3 linked regions of the Homo sapiens genome follow. The protein of the gene in region 1 purifies or fractionates together with the protein of each later gene. This does not show direct contact. Each region holds a gene or a part of one and is shown in the gene's direction. Other genes may lie near its edges.

Region 1 (3,994 bases):
AGCTGAGGGCCAAGCCAGGAGGGTGGGATTTGAGCTTAGTACATAAGAAGAGTGAGAGCCCAGGAGATGAGGAACAGCCTTCCAGATTTTTCTTGGGTAGCGTGTGTAGGAGGCCAGTGTCACCAGTAGCATATGTGGAACAGAAGTCTTGACCCTTGCTATCTCTGCCTAGTCCTAATGGCTGGCTTTTCCCAGGAAGGCTTCTGCTTCCATGGACTGTTAGATTAACCCTTTATTTAGGTAAATGAGGGAACCTACTTTATAAGCATAGGAAAGGGTGAAGAATCTTTTAAGATTCCTTTACTCAAGTTTTCTTTTGAAGAATCCCAGAGCTTAGGCAATAGACACCAGACTTTGAGCCTCAGTTATCCATTCACCCATCCACCCACCCACCCACCCATCCTTCCATCCTCCCATCCTCCCATTCACCCATCCACCCATCCAGCTGTCCACCCATTCTACACTGAGTACCTATAATGTGCCTGGCTTTGGTGATACAAAGGTGAATAAGACATAGTCCTTTCCTTTGCCCCCAACCCTCAGACCAGAGATGAACATGTGGAATGACCTAAACACCTGGAACAGGTGTGGTGTATGAGCGGCAGGCCTCTGATGAGAGGGTGGGGGATGGCCAGCCCTCACTCCGAAGCCCCTCTGAGTTGATTGAGCCATCTTTGCATTCTGGTCCCTGCAGATGTCTCTGCTATCTCCAACCTCATCAGGAAGCATGTGTCTGAAGCCCGGCTGGTGGAAGACATAGGGCATGAGCTGACCTATGTGCTGCCATATGAAGCTGCTAAGGAGGGAGCCTTTGTGGAACTCTTTCATGAGATTGATGACCGGCTCTCAGACCTGGGCATTTCTAGTTATGGCATCTCAGAGACGACCCTGGAAGAAGTAAGTTAAGTGGCTGACTGTCGGAATATATAGCAAGGCCAAATGTCCTAAGGCCAGACCAGTAGCCTGCATTGGGAGCAGGATTATCATGGAGTTAGTCATTGAGTTTTTAGGTCATCGACATCTGATTAATGTTGGCCCCAGTGAGCCATTTAAGATGGTAGTGGGAGATAGCAGGAAAGAAGTGTTTTCCTCTGTACCACAGTACATGCCTGAGATTTGTGTGTTGAAACCAGTGGTACCTAACACATTTACATCCCAACCTTAAACTCCTATGCACTTATTTACCCTTTAATGAGCCTCTTTACTTAAGTACAGTGTGAGGAACAGCGGCATCAGGATCACTTGGGAACTTGTTAGAAATTCAGCAACTTGGGCCCAGCTCAGACCTACTGAATCAGAATCAGGAGCAATTCTCTGGTGTGACTGTGTCACAGCCAGGTATCAACTGGATTCTCATACATAGGAAATGACAAACGTTTATGGATGGATAGTCTACTTGTGCCAGGTGCTGAGATTTGTTTTTTGTTTTTTGATTTTTTTTTAATCACTGTGACCTCATTTAATTCTCAAAAAAAGATGAAAAAATGAACACTCAGGAATGCTGACATGAGATTCAGAATCAGGGGTTTGGGGCTTCAAAGTCCATCCTCTCTTTATCCATGTAATGCCTCCCCTTAGAGATACAACATCACAGACCTTGAAGGCTGAAGGGGATATAAAAGCTGTCTGGCCAAGTGGTCTCCAAGCTTGACAGTGCAGCAGAATCACCTGGGGATATTATTAAAAATAAACATACTAAGGTTTGGCTTCAGGGCCTGTGAATCAGAATTTCTGGAGGTGAGGCCTTGAAGTCTGTATTTCTATTGCATACTTTGGACACAGTGGTCTATAGACTAGAGTTTGGAAATGATTGCGCTCATTCAGATTCTCTTCTGATGTTTGAATTGCTGCCATCATATTTCTAGTGCTCTATTTCCTCCTGCTCATTCTGTCTTGGATAACTTATCATAGTACTAGCCTACTCAAAGATTTAGAGCCACAGTCCTGAAAGAAGCCACTTGACTCATTCCCTGTAGGTTCAGAATAAATTTCTTCTGCGCAGTGTCTGTCATAGCTTTTTTTAAATTTTTTTTTATTTTTGATGAGACTGGAGTTTTGCTCTTATTGCCCAAGCTGGAGTGCAGTGGTGCGATTTTGGCTCACTGCAACCTCCACCTCCCAGGTTCAAGCGATTCTCCTGCCTCAGCCTCCCAAGTAGCTGAGATTACAAGCATGTGCTACCACGCCCAGCTAATTTTGTATTTTTAGTAGAGATGGGTTTTATCCATGTTGGTCAGGCTGGTCTCGAGCTCCAGACCTCAGGTGATCTGCCCGCCTCGGCCTCCCAAAGTGCTGGGATTATAGGCCTGAGCCACAGCGCTCAGCCATAACTTTAATTTGAAAATGATTGTCTAGCTTGATAGCTCTCACCACTGAGGAAATGTTCTCTGGCAAAAACGGCTTCTCTCCCAGGTAACTCTGAGAAAGTGTTATTAAGAAATGTGGCTTCTACTTTCTCTGTCTTACGGGGCTAACATGCCACTCAGTAATATAATAATCGTGGCAGTGGTGACTACTCTCGTAATGTTGGTGCTTATAATGTTCTCATCTCTCTCATTTTCCAGATATTCCTCAAGGTGGCCGAAGAGAGTGGGGTGGATGCTGAGACCTCAGGTAACTGCCTTGAGGGAGAATGGCACACTTAAGATAGTGCCTTCTGCTGGCTTTCTCAGTGCACGAGTATTGTTCCTTTCCCTTTGAATTGTTCTATTGCATTCTCATTTGTAGAGTGTAGGTTTGTTGCAGATGGGGAAGGTTTGTTTTGTTGTAAATAAAATAAAGTATGGGATTCTTTCCTTGTGCCTTCAGATGGTACCTTGCCAGCAAGACGAAACAGGCGGGCCTTCGGGGACAAGCAGAGCTGTCTTCGCCCGTTCACTGAAGATGATGCTGCTGATCCAAATGATTCTGACATAGACCCAGGTCTGTTAGGGCAAGATCAAACAGTGTCCTACTGTTTGAATGTGAAATTCTCTCTCATGCTCTCACCTGTTTTCTTTGGATGGCCTTTAGCCAAGGTGATAGATCCCTACAGAGTCCAAAGAGAAGTGAGGAAATGGTAAAAGCCACTTGTTCTTTGCAGCATCGTGCATGTGATCAAACCTGAAAGAGCCTATCCATATCACTTCCTTTAAAGACATAAAGATGGTGCCTCAATCCTCTGAACCCATGTATTTATTATCTTTTCTGCGGGGTCCTAGTTTCTTGTATACATTAGGTGTTTAATTGTTGAACAAATATTCATTCGAGTAGATGAGTGATTTTGAAAGAGTCAGAAAGGGGAATTTGCTGTTAGAGTTAATTGTACCCTAAGACTTAGATATTTGAGGCTGGGCATGGTGGCTCATGCCAGTAATCCCAGCGCTTTGAGAGGCTGAGGTGGGTAGATCACCTGAGGTCAGGAGTTTGAGACCAGTCTGACCAACAAGGTGAAACCCCGTCTCTACTAAATACAAAAAATTAGCCGAGTGTGGTGGCACATGCCTGTCATCCCAGCTACTTGGGAGGCTGAGGCAGGAGAATCGCTTGAACCCAGGAGGCAGAGGTTGCAGTCAGCCACGGTTGCGCCATTGCACTCCAGACTGGGCAACAAGAGTGAAAACTCCATCTCAAAAAAGAAAAAAAAAGAATTAGATATTTTGGATGAGTGTGTCTTTGTGTGTTTAACTGAGATGGAGAGGAGAGCTAAGACATCAAACAAATATTGTTAAGATGTAAAAGCACATCAGTTAGGTATCATTAGTTTAGGACAAGGATTTCTAGAAAATTTTTAGGAACAGAAAACTTTCCAGTTCTCTCACCCCTGCTCAAAGAGTGTATGGCTCTTACATTATATATAACTGCCTGACTTCATACAGTATCAGTACTTAGATCATTTGAAATGTGTCCACGTTTTACCAAAATATAATAGGGTGAGAAGCTGAGATGCTAATTGCCATTGTGTATTCTCAAATATGTCAAGCTACGTACATGGCCTGTTTCATAGAGTAGTCTA
Region 2 (3,911 bases), on another chromosome or scaffold:
CCAGAGCTTTCGGACCCGAGGTCCCTGTACCTACTTTTCCCATCTGACAGTCAGGTTTTACCTTCCAGGTGACAAGGTCAGTCGATCACCAAGAGCTTCCTCATTTCCTGATCCTGGGATAGGTAGTTGGGATACAGGAAGTAGATACAAGTAGAACACAAAAGATGACCCTTTGACTGGAGAAGTTTATGATCTAGTTAATAAAGCAAGACCAGGCCAGGTGCGGTGGCTCACGCCTGTAATCCCAGCACTTTGGGAGGCTGAGGCGGGTGGATCACAAGGTCAGGAGTTCAAGACCAGCAGGCTGGCCAACATAGTGAAACCTCATCTCTACTAAAAATACAAAAAATTAGCCAGGTGTGGTGGCAGGCGCCTGTAGTCCCAGCTACTTGGGGAGAATGAGGCAGGAGAATCACTTGAACCTGGGAGGCAGAGATTGCAGTGAGCCGAGATCACACCACTGCACTCCGTCCTGGGCAACAAGAGTGAAACTCCATCTCCAAAAAAAAAAAAAAAAAAGACCAAAAATGCAAAATAAATAGATCAAATGAAGTGGCAGAAAAAGCTAATCATAAAACTTTCAGCATATAAGTATAATAAGGGTTTCTGAAAAGGAAGAGATTGTTGTGGACTAGAATAGCCAAATGGTTTTGTGGCTTCATGGAAGAATAAAACCAAGAAGGGAAGGTGTCAGCAAAGGACAGTAGTGCCTTCCTAGTTTCATTATATATCGAACCTGCTTAACACATGACATCTGGGAAGAGCTGCAGGGAATGATTTTCACGTATGATGATCTCATCTAATCCTTAACACTGTGAGACAGATTCGAATATCCCCATTTTACCCATGAGGAAATAGGCTCAGAGAGATGTTGTTCATGTAGCTGTTAAACGGCAGAGATTTAGGCCAGACGTGGTGGCTCACACCTGTAATCCCAGCACTTTGGAAGGCCGAGGCGGGCGGATCACTTGAGGCCAGGAATTCGAGAGCAGCCTGGCCAACATGGTGAAACCCTGTCTCTACTAAAAATACAAAAATAAGCCAGGTGTGGTGGTGCATGCCTGTAATCGCAGCTACTCGGGAGGCTGAAGCAGGAGAATCCCTTGAACTCAGGAGGCAGAGGTTGCAGTGAGCCAAGATCACGCAACTGCACTCCAGCCTGGGCAACAAAGAGAGACTCTGTCTCAAAAAAAAAAAAAAAAAAAAAAAAAAAGGCAGAGAACTGGGTCTTTCTGACTCCAAACTTCGTGCTCTTAATCTTCATCCTTCTATGTTATACTGAACAGAAAACAAAATTTTCTTTGGACATTTGAGGGTGAGCTGTTCTTTCTGTTGTGCATTAATGTGTTAGTTGCTGGATTCCTCCTAAACATCAGCTCCTCAAGGCAGAGATTTTAGTCTGTTTTGTTCATGTTGTGTTCCAGTGCCTGGTGCTTAGTAGGAGGTCAATAAATGAACAAATCAAAGGAAATAAATGGGGTGATGAGATAGAGAGTACCTTATCGGGGAGAGAAATGCAATGGCTGGTCACCCCAAGGAGGTGAAGGTAGGGAGAGCAGGAAGCATGAGGAGGAGCCAGCAGCAGCCCTCCCAGGGAGGAATTCTGAACAAGGCTCGGGGGAGTGAAAGAACCTGCCAGCTGATAAATGGCACAGCCTGAGTTCAACTCCAATGCCCATGGTTTAGTCTGAGCTGAACTGGTAGACTAAGGGAAGTGGAGTGGTCTTACTTAAGGAAGGGTAGAAGCCAAGTGGGAGATACAGGTAAGGAAGCTGTGACAAGAAAGGGAAACCTACAGGACAGTGGGTCTGGAGCATTCTTGGCCCATAGGGGCTGGAGTGGCTAAGACAGGGTCGTCTTTGGAGTCTCACGGGGCAAGGAATTTGTCAGCAAGGACCCTGAAATTGCTGAGGAAGAAACTGGGAGAAGAGGAAGAAGATTCTGCAGATTCTGAAATCGTCTAGTGAGTCTGAGCTAGGCCTGGGAGGAAGTGGACAGCAGCGCCAACGAGTTGATGAGAATGACATATGTGGCACGGACACCAAAAGGTCAGACTAGGCTGGGCATGGTGGCTTACACCTGTAATCCCAGCACTTTAGGAGGCTGAGGCAGGGGGATCACTTGATGCCAGGAGTTTGAGACCAGCATAGGCAACATAGCAAGACCCCATCTCTACAAAAAATAAATTAGCCGGATGTGGTAGTGCACACCTGTAGTCCCAGCTGCTTTGGAGGCAGAGGCAGGAGGACTGCTTGAGCCCAGGAGTTTAAGGCTGCAGTGAGCTATAGTCACGCCACTGCATTCCAGCCTGGATAACAGAGCAAAGCCCTATCTAAAAAATAAAAATAAAAGGTCACATTAGAGAGCAGTAGTGTTTCAGACATCCAGGAATGCTTCATAGAAATGTAGAAACAATTGACTTACCCACACAGACAAGAAAGAAGGCAGGAGGGCAAAAGGTGAAGAGATACACAGATAAATTTACACTGGTGTAAACACATGCTGCAAACACGCGCACACACACGCACACGCACATGCACATGCACATGCCAACCAAATCCTAGCATTCATGTGGAATGTTCCTGGCTGAAGACATAACAGCTGCATCTCTGGCCTCCCTTCACCTGCCCCTCCCTTCCCCAGTAGCTTTTTCCCATGGCCTCTCCTCAGTCCTTTTCACTCCACCAAAGCAAACCTAGGACTGCCCCAGCCACTGAGGCCTTGCCCTGGCCACGAACTCTAGCCCTTATCCTGGTTCGAGTCTGAGTGTGGGCCATGCCTCACATGGGAATCAGACTGGGTTTCCCTTGCCCAGCCCTCCAGGCCCCAGGGTGCTGTCTCTGCACCTGCACTCCCCTGTCCACATCAAACTGGGTTTCCCTTGCCCGGGCCTCCAGGTCCCAAGGTGCTGTCTTTGCACCTGCACTCCACTGTCCACATCAGACTGGGTTTCCCTCGCCCGGGCCTCCAGGCCCCAGGGCACTGTCTCTGCACGTGCACTGCCCTGTTCGCATCAGACTGGGTTTCCCTTTCCCGGCACTCCAGGCCCCAGGGCACTGTCTTTACACCTGCACTGCCCTGTCTGCATCTCTTCTGTCTTTCTGTGCCTCTTGCCCTTAGAGCTCCTTGTCTGTCTTTCAGTGCATATACCAGAATGTCTGTATGTCTATGTGAAATCTTTTTGTGGGAATGCCTGAATTTTTACGTATGTGACTTTCTGGTGTCATCCCTAAGGCCAAGAGTGTTAAGAGTTGGGGTGAGAGATGGTAGAGTTTTTTATGTTTGGCTCTCCACATTATATAGGTTCTAGGATATGTCCCTGAAACTACAACGTAGCTCATACATGGGCATTTTTATAAGACTAAGTGTTTTTATGGGTGGACCTCCTGATTCTCTGCCATGAGCTAGGCCTGAGATTTTACAGACCTAGGACTAACTGCAGTCACCTGGACACCAGAGATCTGTAACTGTCAACCGTAAAGAGAGAGAGTATATTTGCTTCTTTGGGGTTGAAACCATACTGACGTAATATAAACAGAATTTGGTCAGCACCATCAGGCAAACATAGTCTGCTCGATAAGGAAACTGTGAGAGTCAAATGGAACTTTTGAAGAATCTAGACCAAGCTGAACTTCCCTGCCATATTCACCCCTGCCTCACGCCTCTCCCTGTTCACCCCTGGCTGGCTGGCTGCATCCTGGGGAATGCTTCTGCTCCATCGGGGTACCCTTCCTCCTCTGCATCTCCTCAAGAGAAGTGTAACCAAGACACATAGAAGAAGCACAGACTAACACACCTTCCCCCATAGTACATCATCTCCACCCTCCACAGCCTCATGTTATGCTCCTGTGTCCTTCACAGTCTCCCCTCCCATACCCTGCCATCCCGGTGTGGGGGCTGTAAATCCAGTT
Region 3 (3,994 bases), on another chromosome or scaffold:
TCAATGGATACTTGAGTTACTTCTTTTTTTGTTGTTGTTGTTTTTGAGACCGAGTCTCGCTCTGTTGCCCAGGCTGGAGTGCAGTGGCGCGGTCTTGGCTCACACTGCAAGCTCCATCTCCCGGGTTCACGCCATTCTCCTGCCTCAGCCTCCCAAGGAGCTGGGACTACAGGCGCCTGCCATCTCTCCCGGCTAATTTTTTGTATTTTTAGTAGAGACGGGGTTTCACCATATTAGCCAGGATGGTCTCCATCTCCTGACCTTGTGATCTGCCCGCCTTGGCCTCCCTAAGAGCCGGGATTACAGGCGTGAGCTACGGAGCCCGGCCTTGAGTTACTTCTTACTTTTAGCTATTATGAATAATGTTGCTATGAATATGGGTTTTCAATTCTTTTGGGTATTTACCCAGAATTGTAATTGCTGGATCATATGATAATTCTATTTTAAAGTTTTTGAGGAACCGACAAACTATTTTCCACAGTGGCTGGACCATTTTACATTCCTACCAACAGTGCATAAGGGTTCCAATTTCTCCACATCCTCACCAACGTTTATTTTCTGTTTCTTTTTTTTTTTTCAAGTAGCCATCCATTGGGTGTGAGGTGCTATCTCATTGTAGTTTTGATTTGTATTTCCCTAATGATTAATGATGTTGAGCATCTTTTCATGTGTTTACTGGCCATTTTGTGTATCTTTGGAGAAATGTCTGTTTAAGTCCTTTGCCCATTTTTAAATTGGTTTGCTTTTTTGTTGTTGAGTTTTAGGAATTTTCTATATATTTTGGATATTTTCAGATACATAAACGGCAAAAATTTTTTCCCCATTACTGTGGTTTGCCTTTTTACTCATTGATACCGTGTGGTCTTTTCCTTTCTTTTTCTTTTTGGAACCAGTGCATGGCCTCTTTGTTGATTCTGTGTTTGGCCCCAGTGCAGCCTGTTCTGTGCTATGTGTCTGCAGTGCTGAAACCAGGCCTACCCAGCACCATACAGAAGTCCAGGCTGTAGATACCAATGCATGGGTCACATTTGATACCCAAATCTGTGTGTTCCTGGATCTCCAAACCAAAGTTTCCAGTATCTGAGAAGTTGTTCTTTCTTGATTCACACTCCTGCATCTTTAGACCTTTCTTCAGGGTTTCTTCTGCTTTGGCCCTTTGTGCAGTGGGTGGCAATCTTCACTTCTCCTGATGCCAAAGGATCTGACAATGTATTTGACTTTGGAGAACACAGGGGTCTGGCCTATGAGCTGCTCCAACACCTTGGCTGCTGGGGTCAGTCATCTCCAGTCTCCTCCATACAGATGTTGAGACAGAAAATCGTTCTGTCACCCAGGCTGGAGTGCAGTGGCACAGTCTCGGCTCACTGTAACCTCTGCCTGTCAGGTTCAAGCAATTCTTATGCTTCAGCCTCCCAAGTATCTGGGATTACAGGTGTGCACCACCATGCCTGGCTAATTTTTTGTATTTTTAGTAGAGATGGGGTTTCGCCTTGTTGGCCAGGCTGGTCTTGAACTACTGGCCTCAAGTGATCCACCCATTTTGGCCTCCCAAAGTGCTGGGATTATGAGTGTGAGCCCTCATCTGGCCAGAGTTCTCTTTTTTTTACCTTGATCTTGCACTATGATGGAGAAAAGGAAGATAAAGTCTTTTTTTTTCCCTTGGGTTTGTTTGTTTGTTTGTTTGTTTGTTTTTTGAGACGGAATTTTGCTCTCGTTGCCTAGGCTGGAGTGCATTGGTACGATCTTGGCTTACTGCAACCTCCGCCTCCTGGGTTCAAGCCATTTTCCTGCCTCAGCCTCTAGAGTAGCTGGGATTACAGGCATGCGCCACCACGCCTGGCTAATTTTGTATTTTTAGTAGAGATGGGGTTTCACCATGTTGGTCAGGCTGGTCTTGATCTCCTGATCTCAGGTGATCCGTCCACCCTGGCCTCCCAAAGTACTGGGATTACAGGCGTGAGCCCGTGCCTGGGCTATTTTTTTTTTCTCCCCTTTAAATATAGTATCTTGCTTTATTGCCCAGACTTGTTGTGAACTCCTGGACTCAAATAGTCCTCCTACCTCAGCCTTCCAGGTAGCTGGGATCACAGGGATGCTGTCTTTTGATACACAAACATTTTAAATTTTTATGAAGTCCAGTTTGTCTTTTTGTTTTTGTTCCCTGTATCTTTGGTGTTATATCCAAGAAATCATTGCCAAATCCATTGTTGTGAAGCTTTTGCCTTATGTTTTCTTCTAAGAGTTTTATAGCTTTAGGTCTTACATACATTTTTGATCCATTTTGAGTTAATATTTGTATATTGTGTTAGATAAGGGTCCAACCTCATTCTTTTGCATATGGATATTTAGTTTCCCAGCACCATTTGGTGAAAAGCTTGTCTTTTTCTGATTGAATGGTCTTGGCAACCTTATTAAAAATCATTTGCTCATATGTAAGAGGGCTTATTTCTAAGTGCTGTTATGTTCCATTGGTCTATAAGTCTGTCTTTATGTCAGTACCACATGGTTTTGATTATTGCAGCTTTGTAGTAAGTTTTGAAATCAGGAAGTGTGAGTCCTCCAGCTTTGTTCTTTTTCAAGATTGTTTTGGCTATCTGGACTCCCTTGGGATTCCATATGAATTTGAGGATGAATTTTTCTATTTTTGTAAAACACGTCATTGGGATTTTAATAGGGATTACATTGAATCTATAGATCACTTTGGGTAGTATTGGCATCTTAACAATATTAAGTCTTTCAGTTCATGAACAAGGGATGTGTTTCCATTTATTTATGCCCCTTAATTTCTGCCAGCAGTTTTTTTTTGTTTGTTTTTGTTTTGAGATGGAGTTTCGCTCTTGTTGTCCAGGCTGGAGTGCAGTGGCACAATCTTAGCTCATTGCAACCTCCACCTCCCGAGTTCAAGTGATTCTCCTGCCTCAGCCTCCTGAGTAGCTGGGATTACAGGTATGTGGCACCACGACCAGCTAATTTTTGTATTTTTACTAGAGACAAAGTTTCACCATGTTGGTCAGGCTGGTCACGAACTCTTGACCTCAGGTGATCCACCCACCTTGGCCTCCCAAAGTGCTGGGATTATAGGCGTGAGCCACTGCGCCTGGCCTCAGCAGTGTTTTATAGTTTTCATTTTATAAGTCTTTCACCTCCTTGGTTAAATTAATTACTAATATTTTATTCTTTTTGGTGCTATTTTAAATTGAGTTGTTTTTGTAATTTCCTTTTTAGATTGTTCATTCTTAGTGTATAAAAATGTAACTGGAGGCTGGACGCAGTGGCTCTCACCTGTTATCCCAGCACTTTGGGAGGCAAGGTGGGCCTCCCAACTCCTGATCACGAGATCAGGAGTTCAAGGCCAGCCTGGCCAACATAGTGAAACCCTGTCTCTACTAAAAATACAAAAATTAGCCATGCATCGTGGCGCGTGCCTGTAGTCCCAGCTACTTAGGAGGCTGAGGCAGGAGAATCGCTTGAACCTGGAAGGTGGAGGTTGTGGTGAGCCAAGATCGTGCCACTGTACTCCAGCCTGGGCAACAGAGTGAGACTCTGTCTCAAAAAAAAAAAAAAAGAAAAAAGAAACGTCGCTGGATTTTGCTTGTTGACTTTCTATCCAGCTACTTTGCTGAATTCACTTATTAGTTCTAACAGTTTTTTTTTGTGTGTGTGTAATTTTAGAGTTTTCTTTTCTTTTTTTTTTTTTGAGATGGAGTCTCGCTTTGTTGCCAGGCTGGAGTGCAGTGGCGCGATCTCGGCTCACTGCAACCTCTACCTCCCAGGTTCAAGCAATTCTCCTGCCTCAGCCTCCCGAGTAGCTGGGACTACAGGCACACGCTACGACGCCCAGCTAATTTTTGTATTTTTAGTAGAGACGGGGTTTCACCATGTTGGCCAGGATGGTCTCGATCTCTTGACCTCGTGATCCACCTGCCTCAGCCTCCCAAAGTTCTGGGATTACAGCCGTGAGCCACTGTGCCTGGCTTTTTTTTTTTTTTAATTA

Evidence for each region. Proteins that work in one complex are often made in the same cells at the same time.
Region 2: the proteins of ABCA1 (region 1) and DTNB purify together in Homo sapiens (pull-down; one study listed by IntAct). This does not show direct contact.
Region 3: the proteins of ABCA1 (region 1) and KIF11 purify together in Homo sapiens (co-immunoprecipitation; one study listed by IntAct). This does not show direct contact.

What each region holds. Positions count from the first base shown.
Region 1 is NC_000009.12:104,813,046-104,817,039, reverse strand, and holds part of ABCA1 (phospholipid-transporting ATPase ABCA1), read left to right. Parts: intron 1-694; coding exon 695-897; intron 898-2,564; coding exon 2,565-2,613; intron 2,614-2,808; coding exon 2,809-2,922; intron 2,923-3,994. UniProt on the Homo sapiens protein: Catalyzes the translocation of specific phospholipids from the cytoplasmic to the extracellular/lumenal leaflet of membrane coupled to the hydrolysis of ATP.
Region 2 is NC_000002.12:25,379,822-25,383,732, reverse strand, and holds part of DTNB (dystrobrevin beta), read left to right. Parts: intron 1-3,911.
Region 3 is NC_000010.11:92,595,975-92,599,968, forward strand, and holds part of KIF11 (kinesin-like protein KIF11), read left to right. Parts: intron 1-884; exon of another isoform or gene 885-1,315; intron 1,316-3,994. UniProt on the Homo sapiens protein: Motor protein required for establishing a bipolar spindle and thus contributing to chromosome congression during mitosis. Required in non-mitotic cells for transport of secretory proteins from the Golgi complex to the cell surface.